Linked DNA regions of Homo sapiens: all the other regions are reported to be linked to region 1. The links are microRNA targets in miRTarBase. Many come from high-throughput screens and were not tested one by one. Region 1 holds a microRNA gene; each other region holds the end of a gene's coding sequence.

What was found. Region 1 holds the annotated microRNA hsa-miR-6076 (AGCAUGACAGAGGAGAGGUGG, at 4,586-4,606, opposite strand). A microRNA usually pairs through its seed, bases 2 to 8, with sites in the 3' UTR of a target mRNA and lowers its output. Matches are read on the target gene's strand: a 7mer-m8 pairs with bases 2 to 8, a 7mer-A1 pairs with bases 2 to 7 and ends in A, and an 8mer does both.
Region 2: miRTarBase lists MARCHF5 as a target of hsa-miR-6076. Seed matches in the 3' UTR shown: 7mer-A1 at 5,697-5,703.
Region 3: miRTarBase lists PRR12 as a target of hsa-miR-6076. The part of its 3' UTR that is shown has no 7-base or 8-base seed match.

What each region holds. Positions count from the first base shown.
Region 1 is chr14:49,963,805-49,971,004 of GRCh38, reverse strand. MIR6076 (microRNA 6076) reads right to left here and starts at 4,606; the gene lies at 4,494-4,606. RefSeq lists silencers at 100-394, 5,740-5,809.
Region 2 is chr10:92,350,395-92,357,594 of GRCh38, reverse strand. It overlaps MARCHF5 (membrane associated ring-CH-type finger 5), which reads right to left. Exons shown (of 6, transcript NM_017824.5): 6 at 3,631-6,504. The coding sequence ends at 6,388. Among named protein-coding and RNA genes, the nearest start is that of MARCHF5, 63 kb to the right of the region's middle. RefSeq lists an enhancer at 6,791-7,200.
Region 3 is chr19:49,624,471-49,631,670 of GRCh38, forward strand. It overlaps PRR12 (proline rich 12), which reads left to right. Exons shown (of 14, transcript NM_020719.3): 12 at 374-520; 13 at 635-730; 14 at 991-1,969. The coding sequence ends at 1,137. Among named protein-coding and RNA genes, the nearest start is that of RRAS, 12 kb to the right of the region's middle.

The DNA of each region.
Region 1 (7,200 bases):
AATCCCTGTGTCCTGCACATGCATGTGTGTGTACACACATAGACACACACTCACTCAACGTCATGTGTAGCAAACAGTAGACAATTCCACACTTTCAGGACAGGCACCAGCCAAATCCTTAAATTGTGAAACTAAGAATGCAAGCAGCAAAACTTGTGATTTCAGGCCACTTTTGATTATATTTCTGGAGCTCAGCCAAGAGAGCCATTTCCAAGAAAAGCAGCTCAGACAATTGCACAGTCAGCTCTCCAGCCTTAAACCAAGCTCTTTGTCAAGCTAAGCGGGATGTTTCTCCTCCTGACCTTATCTCAGGCTCCAGCCCTATAACATGTCTGTTAACTAAGTAGCAAATTATCGGCCTTCACCAAGAATACACAAGGAAGAAGTAGAACAAATCCACCTCACATTGCGAGCAACTGGAGAGTCAGCACAACAAACGATTGTGTGCCGAGTACTGCTAGTGAACAGGCACAACAAGGTGCTGATCGTTTCAGACAAAGGGAGAGAAAGGAGTGAACTCCCAAATGTGAGCCCTACACCAACCACCCAGCCAGCCAACAAAATTGTTTCCCTCAAGTGGGCAGCCTTGCCTGAGGAAGCCATGTCTATAATCTAAAGCCGACCTACAGGATTTGTAATAAAGCTCAAACTGGACCTCCCTCTGTCCTGGGGACGGACTCAGAACATAGAATCCATCTGGGGGCCATTTGCTCAGATTGGGAGTAGCTGGAGGCTTGGGAGGGAAGAAAGCCACTGTAGTTTTCATGACCCGTGAACCTAGATCCAGTGTGCAAGCCAGGCTACCCTGAAGGTCCCAGAATGAAGCCTTTCTTCCTCGTTAGACACGTAAGTCCAAGGGAACTGCACTTTAAATTCCATAAATACATAGTAAGTGAATAAATAAGTCACTGACCATTTATATGCATAGATAGCATTTTGGGTGGCAACCGCTGACTTAGAACATTTGCCCTATTTAGAATCTAACTCAGGCTTAACTTAGAGGAGACTATTCTGAGGTAAAAAAATTTTTTTGTTGATAGTTTTTTAGTTCTTTGATGTTAGAACTTATTTTGAGATGTTAAAAATAAATATTTGAGGCCGGGTGTGGTGGCTCACATCTGTAATCCCAGCACTTTGGGAGGCCGAGGCGGGTGGATTACCTGAGGTCAGGAGTTCCAGACCAGCCTGGCCAACATGGGGAAACCCTGTCTCTACTAAAAATATGAAAATTAGCCAGGCGCGGTCGTGCACACCTGTAATCCCAGATATCTGGGAGGCTAAGGCAGGAGAATCGCTTGAACCCGGGAGGTGGAGGTTGCAGTGAGCCGTGATCGCGCCACTGCACTCTAGCCTGGGTGACAGAGCCAGAGTCCATCTCAAAAATAAAAATAAAATAAAATAAATATTTTTAAAACTTAGGCAGCAAATGGTATCATTTTACTCATCCCCTAATTTAGATAATAAATTAGCCTCTATTTCTCACCCTCACAAATAAATTCCATACTGACTAAAAAGCCTAAAGTAAAAAATCAAAATGAGTATTAGAAGGAAATGGAAATGTGGCCCCATGCAGTGGCTCACACCTGTAATCCCAGCACTTTGGGAGGCTGAGGCGGGAGGATCGCTTGCGCACAGGAGTTCGAGACCATCTGGGCATCATAGCAAGACCCTGTCCCTACAAAAAATTAAAAAATTAGCCAGGTATGGCGGTGCATGCCTGTAGTCCCACCTACTAAAGAGGCTGAGAGGGGAGGATCGCTTGGGCTTAGGAGGTTGAGGCTACAGTTAGCCATGATCATATCCTGTACTCCAGCCTGGAAACAGAGTGAGATCCTGTCTAAAAAAAAAAAAAAAAAAAAAGGAGACAAGACATAAGAGAGTATTTTACAATCTTGAGATAGAGAAGGACTTTCTAAGCAAGATATAAAACCAGAAACCATAAAGAAAAAGAATTACAGATTTGACTGCATAAAAACTTTAAACTTTGTAAAATAAAAGGGCCTATATACAGACTAAGAGAGAATATTTACAACAGAACTAACATCCAGAGTAAATAGGACAGATACAAGTCAATAATAAAACACAAACCACCCGATAATAAGTGTGCAAAGAATATTCATAAGAAATTCACAAATGCAATTGGTGGAGTTGAACAGAACAATGCTGATGACCCCAGAATCTTGTTCCTAGATATATACCCAACAGAGATGATGCACAGCTATACTAAAGAGCATGCACGATAATGCTCTTAGCAACATTATTCATTAATAACTGAAAGTTGGCAACAGATGTAACCCAGATGTCCATCAATCAATAAATTGTGATATATTCACATAATGCAATACAATAAGCAATGTAAATGAGCATACTACAGCTACACACGAGTACGTGAAAGACTCATAAACGTAATGCGAATGAAGGAAGCTAGACGCAGAAGAGTGCATGTTTGTATGAGTCTGTTCATATGACAGTAGGAAACAGGAACGACTAATCTACAGCACTTAGATGTTGGGGTAGGAATTACTTTGGAGGAGGTCGATCTTTTTCAGGGGAGAGTCTTCTTTTGGGGAGAAGGTCTTATAATATTTTATTTATTGACTTGGGACATGATTACAAGGAAGAGTTCACTTTGTCTTAATGCATTGATCAGTACACCTTTAATGTATACACCTTTCCTTTTTCTTTTCTTTTTTTTTTTTTTTTTTTGAGATGGAGTCTCGCTCTGTCGCCGAGACTGGAGTGCAGTGGCGAGATCTCAGCTCACTGCAACCTCCGCCTCCCGGGTTCCAGCGTTTCTCCTGCCTCTGCTTCCCGAGCAGTCGGGATTACAGGCACCTGCCACCATGCCCAGCTAATTTTTGTATTTTCAGTAGAGACAGGGTTTCGCCCTGTTGGCCAGACTGTTCTCAAACTCCTGACCTCAGGCAATCCACCCGCCTTGGCCTCCCAAAGTGCTGGGACTACAGGCGTGAGCCACTGCACCCGGCCTATACACCTTTTCTGTATTTTTATTTTTAAAAGTTCCCAAAATTGAAATGGTCAGTAGGCCACTGCAACCAGCCTATACACCTTTTCTCTATTTTTATTTTTAAAAGTTCCAAAAATTGAAATGGTCAGTAGGCCACTGCAACCAGCCTATACACCTTTTCTGTATTTTTATTTCTAAAAGTTCCAAAAATTGAAATGGTCAATAGGCATATGATAAAATGAACAATCTAACTGGTAAATCCAGGAAATGCAATTTAAAATGACACTGTTTTTTCTGCACATGACGCTGGCAGTTTTAACAAAATGATTATGTCCAACGCTGATGAGTATAATGGTGGCTATAAAAATCAGAACAGAATTTTGGGGGAGAAACTCAATATTATTTACAAAAATTTTAAATGTGCATGCCCTTTGATCCAGAAATTCCACTTCTAGAAATAATATCCTTCAGAAACACTCATACATACACACACCCATTTGTGTATAAGAACATTTGTTGCAGCATTGTTTGTAATGGTGAAAAATGGAAAACCACCTATGTGATCCTTTGCTAAAATAGTGGGTAAAGAAACTATGATACATCTAGAAGGAATGCAACAGTTAAAATGGGGGATGCCTATATGCACTAACACAGAAAGAGCTACAGGGAATGTTGTTAAGTAAAAGAAAAAAGTAAGTCAGAGAACAGAACATGTCATGTGATCGTTTATGCATAAATGACCTGAATGGGCCGGGTGTGGTGGCTTACACCTGTAATCCCAGCACTTTGGGAGGCCGAGGTGAGCAGATAACGAGATCAAGTCCATCCTGGCCAACATGGTGAAACCGCGTCTCTACTAAAAACACAAAAATTAGCTCAGCGTGGTGGCGCGCACCTGTAGTCCCAGCTACTCGGGAAGCTGAAAGCTGAAGCAGGAGAATTGCTTGAATCCAGAAGGCAGAGGTTGCAGTGAGCTGAGATTGTGCCACTGCACTCCAGCCTGGGTGACAGAGGAAGACTCCGTTTAAAAAAAAAAAAAAAAAAAGACCTGAATGTCCTTAAAACATTAAAACCACACACACAAAAAATTAAAACAACGGAAAATATCTGATGTGGTTCATTTATCTAAATACTTCACAAATCCTAAGACAAATAAATTTAACTTCTCTCTTGAGAAGTTATATGCACTGTATAAGAATTCTCTGGAACTGTCTCTCTACACCAAACCTGAAAGGACTGCACCACAATGGGAAGGAACTATTTCTTGTTCCACAGCCTCCTAGAAGAGTCTCAGTGTCTCCTCAGAAATGCCAGCTCCCACACGGGCCTGAGCAATAGCTCATGGAGTCTCTCCAGACCTTTGTGCTTCTGAGGCACTTTTCAATAATTAACTAATCTGCCTAAAGGGTGGGGCGGGCTATGGCTCCCACAGACTCAGCACTCCCTTCAGCCAGCTGCCCTCTGGAATGCAAAGGCATCCATCCCCTAGGAATGGCTGTTGGTCAATCCCTGCCCCACCACAGCCCCCAAACTCAGGAGGGTGAAAGGGCCAGGGCAGGAAAGCAACTTCCCCTCTCAGATGTTCTCCTGGAGAAATTATATTACTCTCGCCTACCTCCACCTCTCCTCTGTCATGCTCCTCCAGCATCTGAAAAAGAACGTTCCAACAGGCAGCAGGACAAATTACATGTCAATGCTGTCAGTTTCAATGCTGCCCTTTGTTGCTCCAGGTCCTATGAACCACAGAAAAATGTATAGGTCCTTTCCATTTTTTTTTTCTTTCTGGCACAAATAAAATAAACAGCAGAAGCAGTTTCTATTTCAGTATTTTCAAAGGGATGGTGTCTGGAGGAATGGTTCCCAATCTTTGGAATTTAACAAACCATTAAAATTTTGAAAACCTTTTGAGAGACTAACATAGGACTGCTCACTTCTATTTTGCCAAGCACAGACACTTAAAAAACAACCTGAATTATTGTCACCATCATTTTATGGTGGGAGATGATTGGACACTTTAACCCCAAAACAATGTAATCATGACAATCTCAGATTTTAAAACAGGACTTCAAATTTAATACACTCAGATGCATGAGAAATACACATGTATTTCACGTAGACTGGTGAACACTTCCTTACAGACGCACCAGCCCCTTGGAAAGAACTGGCAGAGACTAAATCATAAGTTTCCAAACCTGACTATGCCTGAGAAAGATAGGAAGGCATTAAAAATAATAATAATAATAATACAGATTCCAGATTCCCACCCCATCCATATTTACTGTATCACCTTCTGAGGATTTCTTGAGACGGAGTTTTGCTCTGTCACTCGGGCTGGAGCGCAATGGCACTATCTCGGCTCACTGCAACCTCTGCCACCCAGGTTCAGGTGATTCTTCTGCCTCAGCCTCCAGAGTAGCTGGGATTACAGGCACCCACCATCATGCCAGGCTAATTTTTGTATCTCTGTAGAGAAGGGGTTTCACCATGTTGGCCAGGCTGGTCTTGAACTCCTGACCTCAGGTGATCCACCTGCCTCGGCCTCCCAAAGTGCCGGGATTACAGGCGTGAGCCACCTCGCCCGGCCGCCTCTGAGGCTTTCTAAGGGTGGGGCCCTGGAATGTGTATTTAAAACTTTTTTTTACTATGGTGAAATATACATAATATAAAATTTACCACTTTAACCATTTTAAGTGTACAATTCAGTGGCAATAAGGACATTTACAATGCTGTATGTAACTTTTCATCATCCCAAACAGAAACTCTGTACCTGTTGAGCAATCACTCCGCATTTCCCCTTCCCCCAGCTCCTGCCAAACCTCTATTCTACTTTCTGTCTCTGTGAATTTGCCTATTCTAGGTCACTCAAAGAAGTAGAATCACACAATATTTTTCCTTTTGTGTCTGGGTTATTTCACTTAGCATAATGTCTTTGGTGCTCATCCGTGTCATAGCAGGTATCAGAATCCCACTCCTTTTTGTGGCTGAATCCTTCTCCATTGCATGCATTTGCCACATTTTGTTTATCTGTTCATCTGCTGGTGGACGGTTCTGTTGTTTCTACCTTTTGGCTATTATGAACGGTGCTGCTATGAAGGTTGTTGTACACGCATCTGTTTGAGTTCCTATTTTCTATTACTTTGAGTATATACCTAGGAGTGGAATATGCTGGATCATATGGAAATTCTGTATTACCACCAAGGAACAATCAGGCTGTTTTCCACAGTGGCCGCACCATTTTACACTCCCTCCAGCAATATGCGAGTGTCCCAAGTTAGCCACATCCTCACCGACATTTGTTGTTTTCTGTTTTTGTTTTTATTACCAGCCATCCTCATAGATGTGAAGTGGTATCTCATTGTGATTTTGATTTGTATTTCCCTAATGATTAATGATTTTAAACATCTTTTCCTGTGCCTATTGGCCATCTGTGTATCTTCTTTGGAGAACTGTCTATTGAATTACTTTGCCTATTTTAACATTAGGTTGTTTGGTTTGTTGTTGTTGAGTTGTAGGGGCTTTTAACATATTCTGGATAGTAGTCCCTTATCAGATGTGTGATTTGCAGGTATTTTCTCCCATTCTGTAGGCCATCTTTTCATTCCCTTCACAGTGACCTTTGATACACTGAAGTTTTTTATTTTGATGAAGCCAAATTTGTCTATTTTTTTCTTTGGCTACCTGTGCTTTTAGTGTCACATCCAAGAAATCTTGCCAAATCAAAGATTATGAAGATTTAGTTTAGGTCCTTGATCTATCTTGAGTTAATTTTTGCACATGGTATAAGGTAAGGGTCCAGCTTCATTCTTTTGTAAGTGGATATCCAGTTTTCCCAGCACTATTGAAGACAAGGGTTTGTTTCCCGGCTCTCTATTTTATTCCATTGATCTATACGTCTGTTCTTATGTTACTACCACACTACGTGGTCTACTGTAGCTTTGTAGCAAATTTTGTGTGAGAAATCTCACCACGCTACCCGCTCCAGAAGTGCCTGCAGGAAGGAATGAAAGGACACAGGGGCGAGCGAGTCTCTGAGTATGAGAAGATCGTTGACAGCCCTGGAGCAGCAAGGGTGCTCTGGTGTGCGGCTTCCACCCTTCCCCTGATCGCAGCTGCCTCTGTTGGGCTAGCTCCTCCAACCATAGTGCTTGGTCTGTAACCACCAGAGTTCTGGGCAAGTCCTTAGTCTGAAAAAGGATGAAGAGAGGAGGTGTTGTGTGCAAAATGTGATTCAC
Region 2 (7,200 bases), not on the chromosome of region 1:
CACAATTGAACTCATGGAGATGCAGAGTAGAAAGATGGTTACCAGAGGCTGGGAAGGGTAGTGGCAGGGGGTGTGGGGAGAAGTGGGGATGGTTAATGGGCACAAAAAATAGAATAAATAAGACCTAGTATTTGGTAGCACAACAGGGTGATTATAGTCAATAACTGTACATTAAAAAATAATGAAAAGAGTATAATTGGATTGGTTTGTAACACAAATAGATGATAAATGCTTGATGTGATGGATACACCATTTACCCTGATATGATTTTGATGCATTGCACAGCCGTATCAAAATATCTCATGCAACCCATAAATATATATATACTTAGGTACCCACAAACATTAAAAATTTAAAAAACAATCTTTACTGAGAAATAATTCATTTACCATAAAGTTCACCTTTTAATTGAAGTGTACAATCCAGAGGTTTTTAGTGTATTCACAGAGTTGCACAATCAATACTACTAATTTCAGACCATTTTCAACGTCCCCAGAAGAAACCTTGTACCCATTAGCAGTCATTCCCCATTTTTCCCTCCCTCCAGCTCCTGGAAACTATTAATTTACTTTGTCTCCTGGATTTGTTTATTCTGGATTTTTCATATACATGGAATCATATCTGTAGTCTTTTGTGTCTGGTTCCTTTCACTTACGATGTTTTCAAGGCTCATTTACGTTGCAGCACGTATCAGTACTTCATTCCTTTTTATGCTTGAATAATATTCCATTGTATAGATAAGCCATATTTTGTTTATCCACTTATCAGTTGATGCACATTTGTATTGTTCCCACTTTTTGGCTATTGTGAATAGTACTGCTATGAGCTTCACATATAATTGTGCATGTATATATATTTCAACTTACAAAAAGCTTACTTTAAAAAATGTACTTCATTACTTATGTCATGTTGCAGAGGTCCTGTTGAGCATCTGTAGTGTGGGCTCTGGAAATCTGAAAGTATACAAATGAGTGTATGGCCAAGTGGTCAGGGTTCTAATGATGGAAATAGTAAAATGTCCACACAGTTGTGGTCTTTCCTTTTGAATAAGATAATGGTGGGTTTGAATTTGTTTGAGGAAAAAATCCTCTTTCATTTTCCTATTTGACTTTAGCAGGCATATTACCCTGAGGGACAGGTATTCAGAGTCCATGCGCTTTTTGAGGTGGCAACATATTTCAAAAGTTGGAACGGAAGCCCTACTATTGTTCAATAAATTCTTGTCTGTGTGTGAAGGAGCTCACCGAAGTGAAGATGACATTGCTGAAAGATTTCTATTATGGTGTGCACTCTTCACTGGAAGACAGCGATTGGCTTAAACATTAAGCCCTTCAACCACAGCATGCCCAAATTCCTGACATTCACACTGGTCTGTGAGCTACCAAGTAGATCCCAATGAATAAATTGATTTCTCTACATGAATGAACCATAAGGGCAGCAAAGTGTGACAGTGCCTCATTTTCTCTTAGGTGACTTTTATTAAAGGTGTCCTAGTGGCTCCCGGAAGACAAGCTAGTGCGCAGGTACTCGTTTGCTGTTTTTGCTGATTCCAGGTGTTAAAGGTGAGAAACTAACATTCTGAAGGGGTCAGGTCAATGCTGTTCCTTCTTAGGTAGTCTTGCTGATTAGTGTTGTACCCTTCATAATTACCTGACTTAAAGTGGTTTTATATCTTTTGTTTTTTTTTTTTTTTTGAGTCAGGGTCTCACTCTGTTCCCGGGCTGGAGTACAGTGGCGCTATCTTCGCTCACTGCAACCTCCGCCTCCCGGATTCAAGCAATTCTCCTGCCTCAGCCTCTCAAGTAACTCGGATTACAGGAACTCACCACCATGCCCGGCTAATTTTTGTATTTTTAGTACAGATGGGGTTTCACCATGTTGGTCAGGCTGGTCTCAAACTCCTGACCTTGTGATCCACCCACCTCAGCCTCCCAAAGTGCTGGGATTACAGGTGTGAGCCACCACGCCTGGCCATCTTTTCGAGACATGAACTCGTTTTGTCGCTGAGGCTCGAGTGGAGTGATGTGATCATGGTTCACTGCAGCTTCTACCTCCTGAGCTCAAGCTATTCTCCTGCCTCTCTCTTAAGTAGTTAGGACCTCAGGTGTATATGCCACCACACTCAGCTTTTTTTTTTTTTTTTTTCGTAGGGACAGGGTCTCATAATGTTGCCCAGGTTGGTCTTGAACTCCTGGGCTCCAGTCATCCTCCTGCCTCGGCCTGCTGAAGTGCTGGGATTACAGGCAGTTTTATGCCTTTTCAAAGTTGCTTTCTTGCCAAAAAAAAAAAAAAAAAAAAAAGTGGCAGAAAGAGGTTAACTATATTTAAATTTTTAGAAACTCAGGAGACCAAAAGAACTAGGATCAAGATAAGTGTTTTGATCTTAAAAAGGAGTGTTTTCCCAAATTCATAAAATGTTCAATCATGCTCCTACCATGTGCGGGTGCTGTTCTAGTGTGGGAAGTGTAAAGAAAACTAAACAAAAAGCATTTTAACCTTATGGATCTTATGTTCTTATGACAGTAATATCATAGTAAGATCTGTTATGCAGTTTAGGACTCTATCTCAAAGCAGGCTTATTCACTATTTAAAACCCCAGGACTGAGCACAATATCTAGCCACATACATAGGTCAACAAATATCTACTTGAGTTGTGTATGTTGTTGGCATACAGTAACCCTGGCCTAGCTATTTTCAGAAAAATGCTTAAATTCACTCGGGATTGACCAGAATGATGGTCTAGCCTCTGTTGCTTGTCCGTAAGGCTTCTGCGGGTATTCAGATGCAAACCCCTCCTTTATTCTCCTTGCTCAGGATCCTTGTTTCAGGAAGGCAATTGTTAAACAAGACACTCCATCACTCTTACCATTTCTAATGGGCACGTTGGGTGGCAAGTAGCACATAAACAGCAACCTTGACTCCAGTGGACCAAAAAAGGCTGTAGGCAAAACCTCTACTATGCACTTAAATTGAGATTTAGTTTCCTTATGTATCAAACTGTCCTAGAATGTTACCTCAATCCTCACAATAACCCAGGAGATGGACTTTATAATCTTCATTTTACTGATGAGGAAATTGAAGATCTGAGAGGTAAAGTAACTTGCCCTACAGCTAATCAAGTGTCAGCTAGCATATGCATCCAGGACTGTTCAATTCTATGCCCTTTCTCCTCTTAGCATCTGTCTCTCAGATGGGGTAATGAAATGACTTAAAACCAATATAATCCCCAAATGGATGCAAGGAAAAGACCTTTAACTCATTCTAGAGGATTCTAATCTTCTACTTCAGAAATTTAAGTTCTTAATATCTCAGAAGCAGTTTGTGTTCCCAACTCACTCGAATACACTTTAAGACATCATGGCATGAGACCACCCACAGATCTTGTCTAGTTGCTTAATTATACTCAGTGCAAGAGGCTTTGAGGGTGGGTGAGTGGGGATGTAGTTTAGTCATTAGAACATACTTAGAATATAGGCTAGCCTGTTTACAAAATTAGGACAAATTCTTCCATACAGTTTTTTTTTTAAATTCAGATTACTTTTACTTACAAAAACTAGTATCTCGATAACTGTGATTAAAAAAAATTATGTATGTACAGAATGTTTTGAGATTTAACAAAGTACACCTAGAGAACATAAAAATTCTTTATTTAACCTAATCCAGCCAGTATTGAGATAGTTTGCTATATTAAAAACAAGACGTTTAAAAAAATTACAGCAAAGTTAGCAAGGCAGTGACTAATTAAGTCACTAAGTTTAATTTTATATTCTTCACAGTCATTTCATAATCATGTAATGGTAAACAATATTTTCAGCCACTTTGGAGATAAGTTAACTTTTGAAAAGAATTCTAGTAGTCGTCATTGAATTTTATAAAAGAGGTTTAAAACATTAAAGTTTCCAGAAATAACACAGTAAAGAAATATGAAAATAAACTGGAAAATAAAATATACCCACCCATCCGAAAAATCTACATCATCTCTTTCATTTGTCCCCAATGCCTTTCTTTTACCTCTCCATTTACTTTTCCTAGAGTGCAAACAGATTACTTAGCAATTAAGAAACAACTACTGCTTTGTAGGGGCGATTTTGAGCCTAAGTGCTGCTGTTCCTTTAATCTCTCAGTTAATCCTAGAAATAGTCTTCTGAGATAAACATTATTTGCATTTCAAAGATTAAGAAAACTGCAGTTGAGAGAAAGTCAAATCCTTTAGCCAAAATCATACATACAGTTATTGAAAGCTGAACTATGATTTGAACCCAGGTCTATCCAACTTTAAGTCTGCCTATGCTCTTTTGTTGCTTCATGGTCAGGCAGGTCACCTTCCTGGGAAGACTGGCATGTGGTATTTCTCGAGCTAATAATAATAAGGCTCTTTAGGTTTAAAAGTGTTCAATTCGGGGCTAGAGGCCACTCTGGTCCTCAGGCACTTGCAGTTCCCTCCCCGCAACCCTAAAAAAACCCTCCCTCCTGCCCCAAAAGGATTAGAGTTGTTCCCCGGCCTTCATGAGCCCTAATACCTATAAAACCAAGCAGCTACTCCCTGTCAAGGGCATTAATGTAGTAAATGGGGAACTGTGTGTTTGCATAACTTTAGTAAAGGCTGCCTAAAAACTGTTCTATACAACAAAATTTTGCAAGATATGTGTCCATTTAATGTATCTTTCACATTGAAAACAAAAGCCAATATATTTTATAATTACAGCCTATAATCTAAGTTTTTAAAATATATAACCATAGATGTTATATTTCCCCTTCAGAACTGTAGTAGTGTTCTTAATAAGGCTCACTGTTAGTCAAATCTTCATCTCCAAATAATACAAATTTGAATGTTCAACAGTCATTCAAATAAACATCATATAACTCAAAATTAAGACATTCATACTATAGAAACCAGTCTTTAATTACTAAAGTTAACATATATTATTGCAAACTAACATAGCTCAATCTATATTTGCTACACTCCTAAAGTGGCCGCTTATCAGTAAGGGGAAACATTTATTATTGACATGCATTACTGTGAACAAGAAAATAAATAGGGTTTTGAAAATATCTCTTAAAAATTTAATTTTAATTAACAAAAATAACCATTCAGGTTGCTGAACATTAAAATGGCCAATCTATTGAAAATGGCTTCAATAATTGCTTTTAAAAATGAATACAAAACTAAACAGTGATTAAGGTGCTAGCCTCATCAATAGGACAATTAAAATCTAAAAACATTAGTGTTGATTTTCTATAATAAACTTAAGCCAAAAACAATGACCTCAATATTTACTTAAGACTTCTTGTTTTCATACTTTTCTCCTCATTAATATAAAAACAAAGAGCTCAAGGCCTCACCTTGGTTTATTCACTGCTGGTTTTCTATGTGCTGAAACTAGACTGTCAACTCTGTAAGAGCTTGGACCAAGTCTGTCTTGTTCACCACTATGTCCTACAGCACTCTGCACAGTGCCTGGGAAATAGGAGGTGATCAACGAATATCTCAATAACTGAATCAATGCAAGAGGAGAGTAAAATAACTTTATTTTTATTTTTGCAAATCATCCTCTGCTCAAACTACTATAAACTGGCAGCTGTAATTTCTAGAAATATGGGTTGAAAAAACTCCCAGAGATGGAAGGACCTGATGAAACACTGAAACACACAAATACACACACACACACACACACACACACACACACACACACGACTGCATGAGTCAAAATTACTTCATGAAGTATGAGATGTCAACATTATGTAAATAAAATTTAATATTGAAAAAGTGATCTGGAAGCCCTGTGAATTTTTACCCTACACATTTTGGAGGACATCACATGGGTTAAAGAAAACACCACAAAATCTCATTTGTTCAGATAATCATTTGAATGTTTACATACATTTTTGGTTATTTATTTATAACTAATTTAATTTACATTTCCTCATATTAACATATCCTCTTATTTAGTATGTAATCAAATTATGTCAGTGAGAAAAATCCTCATAGTACCTTGAGTTGCTGATTCTGAGAAAACACTAAACATGAACATGTACAAAAGAGGCATTTGAATAAAACAGCATGTGCATTTTTTTAATATTTGCACAGTTTGATCTTTGCATTTCTGTCTGGAGAAAATATGAACAAAACCCAGGTTTACCATGCTAAGATAATGGTTCATATGACTGCCATAAAAGTAGTACATACAAACAATGAAAACAAATCACATCCTTAGGTTCCATGATTACCGAGATGATTTCCCCTGCCCTAAGTGCTTTATTATATTTCTTAAAAAATATAGGAGCAGCAGCTTATCACAAGTCTCCACAAGTGCATTAATGATGGAATCAAAACAACACAACAGATTCATAAGGATGAGAGAACTGCAGAACAACCAGAAGTCAGTTTTATGCTTCTTCTTGTTCTGGATAATTCAGAATTTTGCGGTGTGCCTGTCGTAAATATTGCTGCTGTTTGAAGTAAACTTTAAATGCTCCTTTTATGGCAACAAACGCAATTCCACCCTAAAATAAAAAGGAAAATTAGCTTTTTATAATGCAGATTTAGAGAAACAGAGTAATAAAAATAATTTTATTTAGATCACAAAAGACGTAGGCTTTGATGCTAAACTAATTCAGATGACTGCAAATGAAACAGTTTTCTTTTTCTACTAGGAGATGAGATAGGGAGAGAGACAGACTATACGCTGTTACTACAGGTAACAGGGGACACAGATGCCTTCTCCATTATCCTTTCTGACTAGTCTTTCTTCCATGTAGTTCTACATATACTCTGATATACAAAGAAGAATGCTAGGGCACTATGTGCAGACTGCCACTGTTGGGAGCAAGAAAGGCCAAAGGGATCGTGACCAACTCAGCATTCCACTGGAGGCTATATGACCAAACAGCAAACTGTTTATCATGAATGCAGGATGTGAGTAAACTCACACTGAGCCTGCCACCAAAGGGTTTGCTGGGGGCCATCACTCCCTGGTGCAGGGCTCCTTGAACTTATCTACTGGGAAATCTAGCGCCTACTGTTCAAATGATGCAGTCTCGCAAGCCTGCTGTGAACCAAACTGCCAAATGGACTGACAATTACCCGACAATCACCCCTGCTTCTCACTATCTCTTTTGCCTAATAAATACAGAGGGCTGTGTAAAGCTCAGGGCCCTTGTCCACTAGAGGCAAGGTGCCCCCTGACCCCTTCTTCCAAA
Region 3 (7,200 bases), not on the chromosome of region 1:
GGATGGGGCTGGGAATTCTGGGGTAGGTGGTTAGGATGGGGCTGAGAATTCTGGGATAGATGGTTAGGATGGGGCTGGGAATTCTGGGATAGATGGTTAGGATGGGGCTGGGAATTCTGGGGTAGATGGTTAGGATGGGGCTGGGAATTCTGGGGTAGAATTTTGGGTGACATTGAGAATCTGAGCCAGGCCAGAAGGCACAGTGGAAGCATCACTGGTCAGGCCCAGCCTCCTCTGTCCTTTGAGGAGACTCTAGTTGTCTCTCCTGATCTGCAGCCTGGGGGAAACTGAGGCACAGATCTGAGACCTGGCTGTTGGGTTTGGGGTTTATGGATCCAGGGCAGCATCCAGCTGACCCATTGGCTTCCCGCAGGATGCTCTGCACACGTTCCCACAGCTGCAAGTGGAGCAGAGTGGGGAGGGCTCTCCGGAAGAGGGGGCTGTGCGGCTGCGGCCTGCTGGGGAACCCTACAACCGCAAGACGCTCAGCAAGCTCAAGAGGAGCGTGGTCAGAGCCCAGGTGGGCACTGGGGCTGGGGCTGGGAGTGGGGAGTGCTGGCGGTATGTGGGAAGGGAGGAGAGGGGCTGCCAAGTGCCGGGCTGGAGGGGCTGAGGCATCTCCACTCCTACCCAGGAGTTCAAGGTTGAGCTGGAAAAGTCGGGATACTATACACTCTACCATTCGCTCCACCACTATAAATACCACACCTTCCTGCGCTGCCGGGACCAGGTGAGCCCCACCCACAGCACCCATCGCCCTGGGATTCCAACCTTTCTGACTTCCTCTTGGGATCTGAGGGTCCAAGCCCAGCCCCATCCTGCCTCAGACCCAAGAGTTCAGGTCCTTCTGTCTTGGACTTAAGAATGCAGCCCCCAGCCCTGGTCTCCCTGGGACACTGACATCTGACACCCCAGGCCCCATGCCCCAGCCCCTTCCCTCCCCAGAGGCCGGTGTGCCACCCTCCCCAGTGCCATGTTTGACCCCTGCAGACCCTGGCCATCGAGGGCGGCGCCGAGGACCTGGGCCAGGAGGAGGTGGTCCAGCAGTGCATGCGGAACCAGCCGTGGCTGGAACAGCTCTTTGACTCCTTCAGTGACCTGCTGGCCCAAGCACAGGCCCACAGCCGCTGCGGGTGACCCCGCCCCAGCTTGTGAGGGGGGCGCCTCCTCCATGAACCGAGAATTGGGACAGAACCGTGTCCTCAGGAGCTAACACCTGGGCTCCATCGCCGGGGAAAGGGGGTCATGGGTCAGGGTGTGTCTGTGCTGCCCCCTCCAGGGCAGGGTTCAAAGTCCGACTCCCCCCCTCTCCCAAGCCCCCTCCACTCCCTCCCCATTCCTCCCACTGTTCGGTGTACAGAGAAATTATTTATATATATGTATAAATGTCTATTTAGTAACGGTTTCCCTCTCCCCTTGCCCCGACCCCCCCTCCACAGCCACAGCCCCCGCCCCCTCCACCTTGTACATAATGTATAGGAAAAGTCTATGTATGGCTGGGGGGGGTGGGGTGGCTTCAGAGAGCTGGGGGACCCCTTCCCCCCAAGTCCCCCCTGCAGGCCAAGATCTTTGCTAAAGGCCATTCCCTCCGCAGGGCATTTGGCGTCGGGTGGGAGGGGAAAACGCATCTTGTTAATTATTTTTAATCTTATTTATTGTACATACCTGGGGCAGGGGCTTGGGGAGGTGGAGGGGGGAGAAGGGTCCCCTCTCTCTGCCCCTCCCACTCCTTTTCTACGGCGATTTGTCTGTGTCTGGCCCCCACCCACTGCCCATCCCCCATTGTTGTCTGGATGTGGTTCTATTTTTTATCGGTCTCCTTTCCCCTCCTCCCCGTTCTCGCCCCCGCCCCACCCCCTGCTCCCACTACCCTTTGTCTCTTGCTCTTTCTTGGGCTTCTGTACAACTCAACTTGTATACACTGTGTACACACAACCAGCCAAACGAAAACCCAACGGCAAACACTTTACCGGCAGGCTGGAGTGCCTCTGTCCTGCGGCGCTGGAGTGGGTGGCAGTGGTAGCAGGGGCAGAGGTTCTGGAACGGGACTTTCCCAGAGCCCTGGGCAGTGGGGGGCCTGAGGCTGGCATATGTTCTGTGTCCCCGCACAGCAGAGTATCCCACCCTGAAATTTAATGACTTCAGACAACAAATATTTATCACTGGGGGGTTTCTTTTGTTTTTTAGCTAAAGACAGGGTCTCGCTCTGTCACCTAGGCTGGAGTGCAGTGGCATGATCATAGCTCACTGCAGCCTCCAACTCCCTGGCTCAAGCGATCCTCCTGCCTCAGCCTCCCAAAGTGACGGGATTACAGGCAAGTGCCACTGTGCCTGGCCCTGTGTTCTTTATGTTACCCAGGCTGGCCTTGAACTTCTGGGCTTAAAAGATCCTCCTGCCCCAGTCTCAAGTAGTTGGCATTACGGGTGCATGCCACTACACCCAGTTCAAATCCTGTAGTGTTTTGTTTTGGTTTTTTTTTTTGAGACAGAGTCTCGCTCTGTCACCCAGCCTGGAGTGCAGTGGTTCGATCTTGGCTCATGCAACCTCAGCCTCCCCGGTTCAAGCGATTCTCCTGCCTCAGCCTCCCAAGTAGCTGGGATTACAGGGGCCTACCACTACATCCAGCAAATTTTTGTATTTTTAGTAGAAACCAGGTTTCACCATGTCGGCCAGGCTGGTCTCGAACTCCTGACCTCAAGTGATCCGCCAGCCTCAGCCTTCCAAAGAGATTACAGGTGTGAGCCACTGCGCCCGGCCTCAAGTCCTGTATTCTTGAATCCAAGTGAGTGGTCCATGGTACAGCACTCTTGGAGTTCCCCAAGCACTTGTATAAATGTAGAATCGGCACAGGCAGCAGACGAGGAGAGGGCAGGTTGAATAGGGCTGTTTCTCCTCCTCCCACCCTTAAAGGAAAAGATGTAGAATCTCAGGCTGTTGCTCTGGTCTACTTGATCAGAACCCACTTTTTAGTAAAATGCCGAGAGGATTCTCAAGCACATTCAAGTTTGAAGAACCGTGTTCTAGAACAAGAATGTTAAAAATGTGCAGGTTGGCTGGGCACGGTGGCTCACGGCTATAATCCCAGCACTGTGGGAGGCCGGGGCGGGGGGATCACTTGAGGTCAGGAGTTCGAGACCGGCCTGACCAACATGGTGAAACCCCGTCTCTACTAAAAATACAAAAATCAGCCAGGCGTGGTGGCGTGCGTCTATAATCCCAGCTACATGGGAGGCTGAGGCTGAGGCAGGAGAATCGCTTGAATCCAGGGGGCGGAGGTTGCAGTGAGTTGAGATCGTGCCATTGCACCACTCCAGCCTGGCTGACAGAGCGAGACTCCATCTCAAAAAATAAAAAATGTGGAGGTCAACTGGCAATATTTTAGAACCCAGTCTATGAAGCAGTGAACAGGCTGTTGTCATTCTAGAGCCTGGATGGATGGACCACTGGTGTTCCAGAACCCTGGCTTAGTCCGTGGGTAGGGACCCAGTGTGAGATTTGAGGGTGGAACATCAGCATTCCAGATGCCCTTTTAGGTGAGATTCAGGGAGAACCCTCATCGTTCTAGAACCTTGAGTATTGTTCCAGGGGTGTCCAAGGAGAGAATACAGTCATGGGTTCTTAGTTTCTGTTGTACCAGTAAAGCCCCTTCCTCATCCCTCTTTTTTGTTTATTACTAGAGACAGAAACTAAAAACCATGGCTTCAGGCTGCTAAAAGCCTAAAACAAAACAGAACAACAACAAAATAAGGTGGGTTGGACAAATCTGGACTCTAGACCATCACATGTTACAGATTTTTTTTTTTTTTTTTTTTTTTTTGACGGAATCTCGATCTGTTGCCCAGGCTGGAGTGCAGTGGCGCAATCTCGGCTCACTGCAAGCTCCGCGTCCAGGGTTCCTGCCATTCTCCTGCCTCAGCCTCCCAAGTAGCTGGGACTACAGGCGCCCACCACCATGCCCGACTAATTTTTTTTTTTTTGTATTTTTAGTAGAGATGGGGTTTCACTGTGTTAGCCAGGATGGTCTCAATCTCCTGACCTCGTGATCCGCCTGCCTCGGCCTCCCAAAGTGCTGGGATTACAGGCAAGAGCCATCGTGCCTGGCCACATGTTACAGATTTTAGATCCTGGTTTCAGACTAGAGGATGGATAGTAGCATTTGAGAACCATAATGGGTGAGTCAACAATAGACCATGAAGCCAGGCGTGGTGGCTCACGGTTGTAATCCCAGCACTTTGGGAGGTGGAGATGAGCGGATCACCTGAGGTCAGGAGTTTGAGACCGGCCTGGCCAGCATGGTAAAAACCTTCTTTTTTTTTTTTTTGAGACGGAGTCTCCCTCTGTTTCCCAGGCTGGAGTGCAGTGGCACTATCTTGACTCACTGCAACCTCCGCCTCCCAAGTTCAAGCGATTGTCCTGCCTCTGCCTTGTGAGTAGCTGGGATAACAGGTGCATGCCACCACTCCCGGCTAATTTTTGTATTTTTAGTAGAGACAGGGTTTCACCATGTTGATCAGGCTGGTCTCGAACTCCTGACCTCATGATCTGCCCTTCTTGGCCTCCCAAAGTGCTGGGATTACAGGCATGAGCCACTGTGCCCAGCCAACCCTATCTCTCTTAAAATTACAGAAATTAGCCAGGCATAGTGGCTTGTGCCTGCTACTCAGGAGGCTGAGGCAGGAGACTCGCTTGAACCCGGGAGGCTGAGGTTGCAGTGAGCCCAGATCGCGCCACTGCACTCCAGCCTGGGCAACAGAGTGAGACTCCATCTCAAAAAATTTTAAAAAGGATCATGAACTTTCTAGAATCATTGAGTTAAGAGGGCTGAGTACAAACCATTATTGTGCTTGAACTGTGGCCTATAGCATGTGGGGGTGCAGCCTTTGATGGAAAGCCATACATTCAAGGTCCTGGACTAGACTGTCAAACTGAGGCCAAATGCCAGGTGACAGTGGCTCATGCCTATAATCCCAGCACTCTGGGAGGCCAAGGCAGGAGGATTGCTTGAGTCCAGCCTGGGCAACATGGCGAGATCCTCATGTCTCCAGAAAAAAAAAAAAGCTAAAATTGAGGCCAAAGGATTGGCATTGTCCCAGGTCAGAGTTCCAGGATGGAAAACGGGTGGAGTATTCTTTTTCTTTTTTCTTTTTGAGACAGAGTCTCGCTTTGTTACCCAAGCTTGGGTGCAGTGGCATGATCTTGGCTCACTGCAACCTCCGCCTCCTGGGTTCAAGCCATTCTTCTGCCTCAAGCTTCCTGAGTAACTGGGACTACAGGCACGTGCCACCAGGTCCAATTAATTTTTGTGTTTTTAGTAGTGACGGGATTTCACCATGTTGGCCAGGATGGTCTCTAACTCCTGATCTCAGGTACTCCACCCGCCCTGGCCTCCCAAAGTGCTGGGATTGATTAGAGGTATGAGCCACCGCGCTCGGCCGGGAGTGGAGTGTTGTGAGCGTGGACAGTGAGGTCAGGAATCATCCCTTTAGGGACAGAATCACCTTGTGGTTGGCCTTTGGCATCCAGCTGCCCAGATTAGAATCCCAGCTGCAGCACTAACCAGGCAGATTGGGTAACAGACCCCATCTTCACCTTTGCCATCCATTAAATGGGCTTTTGTCAAAATGAAGGAAGACAACCGGTTTGGAGCACCTGGCCTGCAGCTCCTGTGACCTGTAGCAGGAGATCTAGAGAAGCTTAACAGAGGTCCACAACATGACAGAAAACAAAGAGACACAGAGAAAGATAAAGATGGGGACATTGGCCGGGCGTGGTGGCTCACACCTGTAATCCCAGCACTTTGGGAGGCCAACGTGGATGGATCACCTGAGGTCAGGATTTCGAGACCAGCCTGGCCAGCATGGTGAAACCCTGCCTCTACTAAAAATACAAAAATTTGTCGGGTATGGCCGGGCACAGTGGCTTATGCCTGTAATCCCAGCAAATTGGGAGGCCAAGGTGGGACGATCATCTGAGGTCGGAAGTTCAAGACCAGCCTGACCAACATGGAGAAACCCCGTCTCTACTGAAAATACAAAATCAGCCGGGGTGGTGCGCATGCCTGTAATCCCAGCTACTCAGGAGGCTGAGGCAGGAGAATCGCTTGAACCCGGGAGGCGGAGGTTGCGGTGAGCCGAGATCGCGCCATTGCACTGCAGCCTGGGCAACAAGAGTGAAACACTGTCTCAAAAAAAAAAAAAAAAAAAAATTTAGTCGGGCATGCTTGCCGGTGCCTGTCATCCCAGCTACTTGGGAGGCTGAGGCAGAAGAATTGCTTGAGTCTGGGAGATGGAAGTTGCAGTGAGCCAAGATCACGCCACTGCACTCCAGCCTGAGCGGCAGAGTGAGACTCCGTCTTGAAAAAAAAAAAAAAAGATGGGGACATCAAAACCTGGAAAGCTTTAGAATCGTTGCTAGGGCCTGCCAGAGCTCAGGGGAGGGGAGGAACCGAATACATAATTTCTGGCACTAACAGTACCTAGGGAGATGCCAGCCTTTTTGCTGTTGTGTGTTGATCTTTGGGACACTGGTGGCTGTAAACCTTCCAAAAATGGTCTGCCAGTTGTCTTGAGCATTTGGGGGGCAAGCGGTAACTTTAATCACCTTCTCAAAGTGCATCTTGGTCCTACTAGAAGCAGGGTGCCCCAGCCAAGAAGTTGGCCCCATCGGGCAGTGCAGGAAAGACTCTGATCCTCTGCAGGGGGCATGTGGATGGTGAGATCTGGGAAGAGAGATGTTGGCACAGGACTCCTTCCTGTTGGGGGCTCAGTACCCGCAGCTGGGGCTTAGGTGGAAGTGTCAGAGCTTGTTTGGAAACTGATCAAAACATTGCCCACCCTCTTGCCCCACCACTCCCCATCCAGCAGGGGTGGACCCCTGGTGTGCAGAGTTCCTAGCAGGGAAGAGAGCCAACATGTGACAGTACATCCGAGCTGTACTTTTTCCCAGGGCAGAAGGTTGAGAACAGGCCAAAGATTCTGTGATAATAGAACCCGGAAAGGGATATTTAGCTAATCAGTTTTTTTTTTTTTTTTTTTTTTTTTGAGACAGAGTGTCGCTCTTGTTGCCCAGGCTGGAGTGCAACGGCACGATCTCAGCTCACTGCAACCTCTGCCTCCCGAGTTCAAGCGATTCTCATGCCTCACCCTCCCAAGTAGCTGGGATTACAGGCGCCCGCCACCACACCCGGCTAATTTTTGTAG